Linked DNA regions of Homo sapiens. The protein of the gene in region 1 interacts with the protein of each later gene in a pairwise test. Each region holds a gene or a part of one and is shown in the gene's direction. Other genes may lie near its edges. The genes, in order: VIPR1 and PRDM5.

What was found.
Region 2: the proteins of VIPR1 (region 1) and PRDM5 interact in binary tests that used the Homo sapiens proteins (3 or more experiments, as listed by UniProt).

What each region holds. Positions count from the first base shown.
Region 1 is NC_000003.12:42,533,415-42,537,333, forward strand, and holds part of VIPR1 (vasoactive intestinal polypeptide receptor 1 isoform 1 precursor), read left to right. Parts: intron 1-1,560; coding exon 1,561-1,690; intron 1,691-1,928; coding exon 1,929-1,970; intron 1,971-2,675; coding exon 2,676-2,867; 3' UTR 2,868-3,919. UniProt on the Homo sapiens protein: G protein-coupled receptor activated by the neuropeptides vasoactive intestinal peptide (VIP) and pituitary adenylate cyclase-activating polypeptide (ADCYAP1/PACAP).
Region 2 is NC_000004.12:120,691,960-120,695,878, reverse strand, and holds part of PRDM5 (PR domain zinc finger protein 5), read left to right. Parts: intron 1-603; coding exon 604-768; 3' UTR 769-3,919. UniProt on the Homo sapiens protein: Sequence-specific DNA-binding transcription factor. Represses transcription at least in part by recruitment of the histone methyltransferase EHMT2/G9A and histone deacetylases such as HDAC1.

The sequences.
Region 1 (3,919 bases):
AAAGGCTGGGGGGGACGGGGGGGGCATCTGCAGTCTGCTGAGGGGCAGCACATCGGGCCTGTGCACCCTTATCCTCTCCTTTGCCGATGGGACCTTATTTCCCCCAACTTACAATGGTTCAAAAGGGCCTGAATCTGAGGCAAACAGAGCTGGCCATGGTCAGGGCCAGGTCTGTGTGGTGAGACAGAAAGGAAACAGTTGTCAGCAGGCAAAAGGGGTGGGGGCAGTTGGAGATGAAGCTCCTCAAGGAGAAGCTGTCAGCTCCCACTCTACACCTCCCCATAAGCCTTTGATTTAAAGAAAGCCTCCATCTGTTAGCCTCCGGTGTGTGGGATAGTTTTGCAGCCGAAGAGGGGTGGGCATTGCTCAGGATCTTGGCATGGCTGAGAACCAGGTCCAGGAAGGAGTGGGAGGGGCAAGGCCAGCTCCTCTGCCCCCAGCTTGCTGTGGGACCTCAGGCCTTGGGCTAGACTTCCTTGGACTGACTGCTAAGGCAGGAGAGACAGAGTCAGAGACCCTCCCTATCCACACCCCACCTCTCCTAGCCAGGGAGCAATGGGTTCACACTGCCTGGATCAGCTATGAGGTCAGGTGGCTGGGAGGCCTGAACCAGGAAGAGCTCTGGGCCATGGGAGGCGGGTGAGCATTTAGAATGAATGCTGACCCTACTGAGCACACAAAGCTGTGAAGAAGGAGCTGGTCCTTCAGAGCACGCTGGGAGTATATGCACTGGTGTGGGGAGGTAGGAGGAGGGGGATGCAACCCCAGAGAAGGTGGCAACTTCTGGAGAAGCAGACACAGCAGAAAAAACACAGATAGAGGGCGATACTGATTAATTTTGGGTTGTCCCTGGTGATCAGGTATGAACTTGGGTCCCCATCACCCTCCCAAGTGGCCCTGGGCATATGTGGTCAGCACCCAGTTAGAAAGACTTGTTTCCTAGTACGTCTTCTCTCATGGTCTCTCATGGATGCACTATACTTCATAGTACCCAAAACACTTCCAAGTTCATAGTGGGCCTCTGTTTCTATAATTTGACTATGTCGAGCATACACTTACTGCATTATACAAATTGGAAAAACTGAGACCAGGAGAGGAGGAACCAGAATCTCTTGTTGCCTAAGAGATTTTCTACTGCTCTTGATGGCTGAGAGCATCCTCTACTGCAATGATGAGGTAAGCCTCTCCTAGACCAGGGGGCCCAGGCAACAGAACTCCCAATAGTGGATTTCAGCTAACATGTCCCTGTTAGCATCATTCTCACTGGCCTCTCCTTTACCTCTTACCCTCTCTCCTCCAGAAGGGTGAGAATAGAGGGGGTTTCTTTCTCTCTCATGCTTCCCTCCAGGCCAGGAGGGCTGGGGGCAGAAGGGCAGAGGCACTGCAGCTGTGGAACAGGAGCAGACAAGGGCATAATATTCAGAGGAACCTACAGTCCATCCTCATACTTCCTGGTCATTGTCCCCATCTTCTGTGCCTCCAGCTGCCCCCATGCCACACCCTATCATATCCACATGTGTGGACACACATACCCATGGCCTGTCCCTCCCCTGTCTCCAGAAGGCTAGCCAGGTCCACACTCCTGCTGATCCCCCTGTTTGGAGTACACTACATCATGTTCGCCTTCTTTCCGGACAATTTTAAGCCTGAAGTGAAGATGGTCTTTGAGCTCGTCGTGGGGTCTTTCCAGGTATGGGCTGTTGACTTAAGGCTGCATTCTTCCCTGGCTTTTAAGGGAATTCAACCTGGAGTCTTGGCCCTTGCCACTGGATTCCAACCTTTTTACTGTAATAAGTATTAGATAAGCACCTACTTTGTGCTTAGCTCTTTCCTTAACCAGGGGAACACAGGGGCTGGAGCCAGGGGTGGGGCAGGGCTGGGGGCTTCTGGTCTGTCTACCTCACCTCTCCTGTCATCTTCCTTCTCAGGGTTTTGTGGTGGCTATCCTCTACTGCTTCCTCAATGGTGAGGTAAGCCCCTCCCAGTCCTTGGGGCTTAGGCAATGGAACTCCCAGGACCAGGGTCCGGAAACATTGGTGGGATATGTGCAGAGCAAGGACGGGTTAAACCTTGCTGCTCCAAGTATGGTCCTCAAACTAGTAGCACTGGTGTCACCTAGGCCCTTGTTAAAAATGCGCATCTCTGGGACCACCCCAGACCTGCTGGCTTAGAATCTGCATTTTAATAATTATTTTAAAAAACAAACAAACAGCTTTTTACTAAACCCCAGGGGGATTCCTGTGCACAACAGAGTTTGAGAAACACCTAGTTAAGTGGCTGTGTGCAGTGAGTGGGGAGGGATGAGGGCTTCCAATGAAGGTTGAGTTGCTGTGGAGCTCTGGTTACATTGCACAAAAAACCCACTCAAGTGAGCTGGAGACCCAGGATGGGAAGAATTGGAGTACAGTCACCCCTAGGCAGCATCCCTCCCTCTCCCTGGACTGTATTCTAGGATCCTCTCTGCCTCTTACCTCCTGCCATTCCAAGGCCTCCTTCTGAACCTGGCCTCAACCCAGTCCCAAGTTTGCACCGCCCGAGGCAGCATAGGGGTCCCTCCATTTTGATTTCCTAAAGAGAATAAGACTGGCTAGTTCAGAACCCTAAGTCCAGGGCAGCCCAATCAGCAGTGGAAGAGGCTCCACAGCAGTGGGCCTGACCACCTTCCCCTCTCCTAGGTGCAGGCGGAGCTGAGGCGGAAGTGGCGGCGCTGGCACCTGCAGGGCGTCCTGGGCTGGAACCCCAAATACCGGCACCCGTCGGGAGGCAGCAACGGCGCCACGTGCAGCACGCAGGTTTCCATGCTGACCCGCGTCAGCCCAGGTGCCCGCCGCTCCTCCAGCTTCCAAGCCGAAGTCTCCCTGGTCTGACCACCAGGATCCCAGGGGCCCAAGGCGGCCCCTCCCGCCCCTTCCCACTCACCCCGGCAGACGCCGGGGACAGAGGCCTGCCCGGGCGCGGCCAGCCCCGGCCCTGGGCTCGGAGGCTGCCCCCGGCCCCCTGGTCTCTGGTCCGGACACTCCTAGAGAACGCAGCCCTAGAGCCTGCCTGGAGCGTTTCTAGCAAGTGAGAGAGATGGGAGCTCCTCTCCTGGAGGATTGCAGGTGGAACTCAGTCATTAGACTCCTCCTCCAAAGGCCCCCTACGCCAATCAAGGGCAAAAAGTCTACATACTTTCATCCTGACTCTGCCCCCTGCTGGCTCTTCTGCCCAATTGGAGGAAAGCAACCGGTGGATCCTCAAACAACACTGGTGTGACCTGAGGGCAGAAAGGTTCTGCCCGGGAAGGTCACCAGCACCAACACCACGGTAGTGCCTGAAATTTCACCATTGCTGTCAAGTTCCTTTGGGTTAAGCATTACCACTCAGGCATTTGACTGAAGATGCAGCTCACTACCCTATTCTCTCTTTACGCTTAGTTATCAGCTTTTTAAAGTGGGTTATTCTGGAGTTTTTGTTTGGAGAGCACACCTATCTTAGTGGTTCCCCACCGAAGTGGACTGGCCCCTGGGTCAGTCTGGTGGGAGGACGGTGCAACCCAAGGACTGAGGGACTCTGAAGCCTCTGGGAAATGAGAAGGCAGCCACCAGCGAATGCTAGGTCTCGGACTAAGCCTACCTGCTCTCCAAGTCTCAGTGGCTTCATCTGTCAAGTGGGATCTGTCACACCAGCCATACTTATCTCTCTGTGCTGTGGAAGCAACAGGAATCAAGAGCTGCCCTCCTTGTCCACCCACCTATGTGCCAACTGTTGTAACTAGGCTCAGAGATGTGCACCCATGGGCTCTGACAGAAAGCAGATACCTCACCCTGCTACACATACAGGATTTGAACTCAGATCTGTCTGATAGGAATGTGAAAGCACGGACTCTTACTGCTAACTTTTGTGTATCGTAACCAGCCAGATCCTCTTGGTTATTTGT
Region 2 (3,919 bases), on another chromosome or scaffold:
CTGAATAACATCAAACTTTAAACTCCATTTTTTTTGGTAACTTGGACAGTTGTGCCTTGCATTTTCTGTGTTAATATTTTTAGTTATGGGGCTGTTTAATGCATGTTGAGCCAGGTGGGAATGTGGCAGAGCTCATATGAAATAAACTTGTTACCTTCCTTAGTTAAACAAAGTGTATATAATAAGAAATAGAAAAAAGAAATAGTGTGTAATAAATTTCTGCTTATGATACTTAAAACAGCATTAGCTTTTTATTTCACAAGTGGTACTAAACTGAAGGGATCACTGCTGAGAAATGTCTTATGCCATTTATGTTATAGAGAGAGATGCCATCTAGACCGTAAAGCATTTTGCTTAAATAGTTTAATATGAAATGGCAAATACATTCCATTAGGATAAGAAAGGTATTGTTGCCAGGGAGTTGTTTCACTGGAAATGTTTAAATCCAGCAGCTGGGAAAAGGGAAGGGTGACTCGGGTACAAAGGACACCGATTAAATGCAGTAACTTATTAATTTTCTTTGCCAATAGTGTGAGTGTTAAATTTTGTTTATAAATTTTGTTTATTTCAGTATAATATGGTTGGTCTTTGGGTCTTTTCTAGGTTTGTGATTTGGCTTTTAGCCTGAAGAAAATGCTGATTCGACACAAGATGACTCATAATCCCAATCGTCCCCTGGCAGAATGCCAGTTTTGCCATAAGAAGTTTACAAGGAATGACTACCTCAAAGTGCACATGGACAATATCCATGGTGTAGCTGACAGCTAATAGGGGCTGTAAAGGAATTAAACTATTCAGAAGGGCTCCTAATATGAATCCCAGATTTTTATCACCTGATCAGCATAACAGAAGTAGCCAAAAGTGACTTACTGGTCTCATAGTTCTTATTTGCCTACATTTAGAGTCTGTAGATGCATATGCAACCAAAAAAAAGTCTTACTTTTAACAAGAAATGGTATAAATGGAAAAAAAATACAACTCCATAGCCTTGCAAAATGCAACTTGTGCTCTGTCTTATAAAAATGGAGAAAGGAGTCATGGCTCTCTTTCTTGGCCATCCCTCTGTAATGAAGTTTATAATATACTTCCCTAATAGGCCTTTTTATTTTATTGTTATTCTTTGTGTGTCTGTGTGTCTGTGTGTCTGTATGTGTCTGTGTGTGTGCACTCACTTGCAAATGCCAGTTGTTGCAGCTGGTTTTACCAATTTAAATAGAAATAAATCAAGATATCCAACTATTTCTTTGCAGATGAGGATAAGAATAAGTTATCAAAGTCTCAAGTTTGATAGGAAAATAAATAGTTGCTATTTTATAAGACAAACCAAGAGCTGAGCTTATCTAATAGCTCTGTGCAACAAATGAGTTTAAAATAGATATTTGATAACTAAAACATCTATTAAAATATTGCTCATTTTAGAGGATTCTTAGGAAACATTATTTATTCTCATCATTCAGATGCAGACATTCATGGTCTGGAATACTTTTATAAGTTCTACACAAAAATGACCATCACATTTAAATATTCAGCAGGCTACCCCTCTTGAATTTAGACCATTTAGCTTTAGAAATTAACAGTATACCAATATATATAATTAAAAATAGAAACCAAATAGATTCTCTGTATTTGGCAACAGAGTGGCAGAACAATAGTGGCATCTCCACATTTGTTAGGATGAACATAGCCCTTTCCCCTCTCCTTCCATAAAAGTGCACAGAACATGTTAGTGCAGATACAGTCCTCAGAACATTAACATTCCATTTTGCAAAAGACATTTTCCAGAATCTTGGCAGTAGGTAATTCTGAAACACTTTTGAATTACCTTCAATCATCCCATATAATTAGGAATCCAGAATACAAAGTACAAACTTGGCAATTGTTATGATTGAAACTGTCACTGATGCTTAAGGGAAATTGAAGCAAGAAGCATAATTTCTTCCTTTAGGTTATATTTCAGCAAAATACTTGACAGCAACATACAATGAACAGCTTGTTTGGAGAGATGATATGATACAATGTAATAGTGATGTCAAAATAACCTGGAGGAATATCCAAAAACCAGAAAAACGTTAAAATGAAGCCCAACTCATGAACCTCTCTAACTGAAGCCCAGTCAAAAGAAAGGAAGTATAGTTTTAAGGAAGTTATTTGGTTCTAATGAGTTAAGGAGAAAGGTTATCTGAGACACAGTTCTTTGACTTCAGGAATCTCATTTTAGAATTATATTCATGCCCAGTTCCAGTTTTAAAAAGAAACATAAAGATTCAATGTAGACATTTGAATGTTGTAAAATACTAAATTTGAAACTCAGAAGAGATAACTTTTAAAAACATAAATCCTAAAATTATAGTTTAGAAGATATTTAAGTATAGTTATATGTAGTATTTTGAATCTGAAATTATAGACTGTATTTTATAAAAATAAATTTTGGTCTTGTTTCTCACTATATCATTTGTTTCAACAATATATTTTTAGATCTAAAGTGTTTTCATTTTAATATGATAGTGTGTTTAATATCATTTGAATATAAAAAGACAGCTGTAAAATTTGATAGTGTGTATTATTTAAGCACATCCTGTATATTTCTTTGAATGCTGCTTTCTCTATATGGGATGCTTTATATCCCGATTATGTGATGAATGTAAAACTTGAAAGGAGTCCAAATTCCAATTTTGTGTAATCTCAGTGAGTCACAGTTCACATGGCTGCTGGGGAAATTACCCTGAAAACTGTGGTGTCGCTATGCTGTGGAGTAAACAGACAGGCAAGAGGTGCTGGGCTTTATCCTGCTGAAGGTTTATAGACATGGAAATCTTTAGAAAATGGTGTAGAAGGACCTACACCAGAGAGTGGTACACCACTCTCTCCTTTCAGAGGACTGAAACCAAAACAAGTCCTTAGTAGACTATTTGTATGCTGTAAATTTTTATCCAAAAGACAAGTATTCATGGGTAGTTTCAGATATATTAGCATTTGCTTGCTAAAACTTTTAAATTACTTAGTAATAACCAAAAAAAGACACTATTTTAGGCATGATTGATCAATTGAAAGCATAGATAATCATAAGGAAAAGTCTTACAGACAAGCTGAAGTACAGGTACCTACTTTGAAATGTCTTCTGTTTCCTGCTGTGAAAGATTTTGGCTGGGGTATTTTCTTGAGAAAAGACCAGACCCTTAGGTGCCTATAAAGTCTAAGTAATTGAGACTTAGAAATTGGCTAAGTAAATTTAAGAGACGTTCAATAATGTAGGTGGGTTCAGATACCCTTTTATAATAACTGTCTTCTTAGTATATTAACACTCAAGATGTTTGTGTATCTTTAATTTGCCTTTGTTTCACAATAACTGGCTTTTGTTTTCCTTTTCATGGTGTGTTGTTGGCTATATAGAGGCATTTATTGGTAAATTATAATCAGCAGTTGCACCATGGAAGTATTCTTGGTGATAAATTCTTGGGGTTACATAGTATAGTTAACATGTTATTTTCAAGAAACATGAGTGTGTGTGTCTGTGTGTGTGTGTCTGAAGAGTATCACTTATATGCAGTGCATATACATGTAAGTGCATTACTTTGCTCAAATATCTTCTGACCTATTACAGTCAACTCATGCATGAGTGTGAACATGTATTACAGAAGGTCTTACAGCCTTAGTTTCTGTTTTAGATTTTATGTGCTGCTTCCTTTCTCAAACAAAAGCATGAAAGGAAAGAGGATAAGTACTAGAAATATTCATTTTTTTCCTTCACAAATCTAAATGTTGCTTATGAAAACTCATCTTAGAGTAATGAATATGTGGAAGTGGGTAGGTAGGAGGAAATGTGCCTCTTTAAAATCCTAAAATTTTACCATTGATATTGACATTTGTTTGCGTGTATATAAATGGAGCATGTGTAAATATAGAATTCCAATAGCATTTT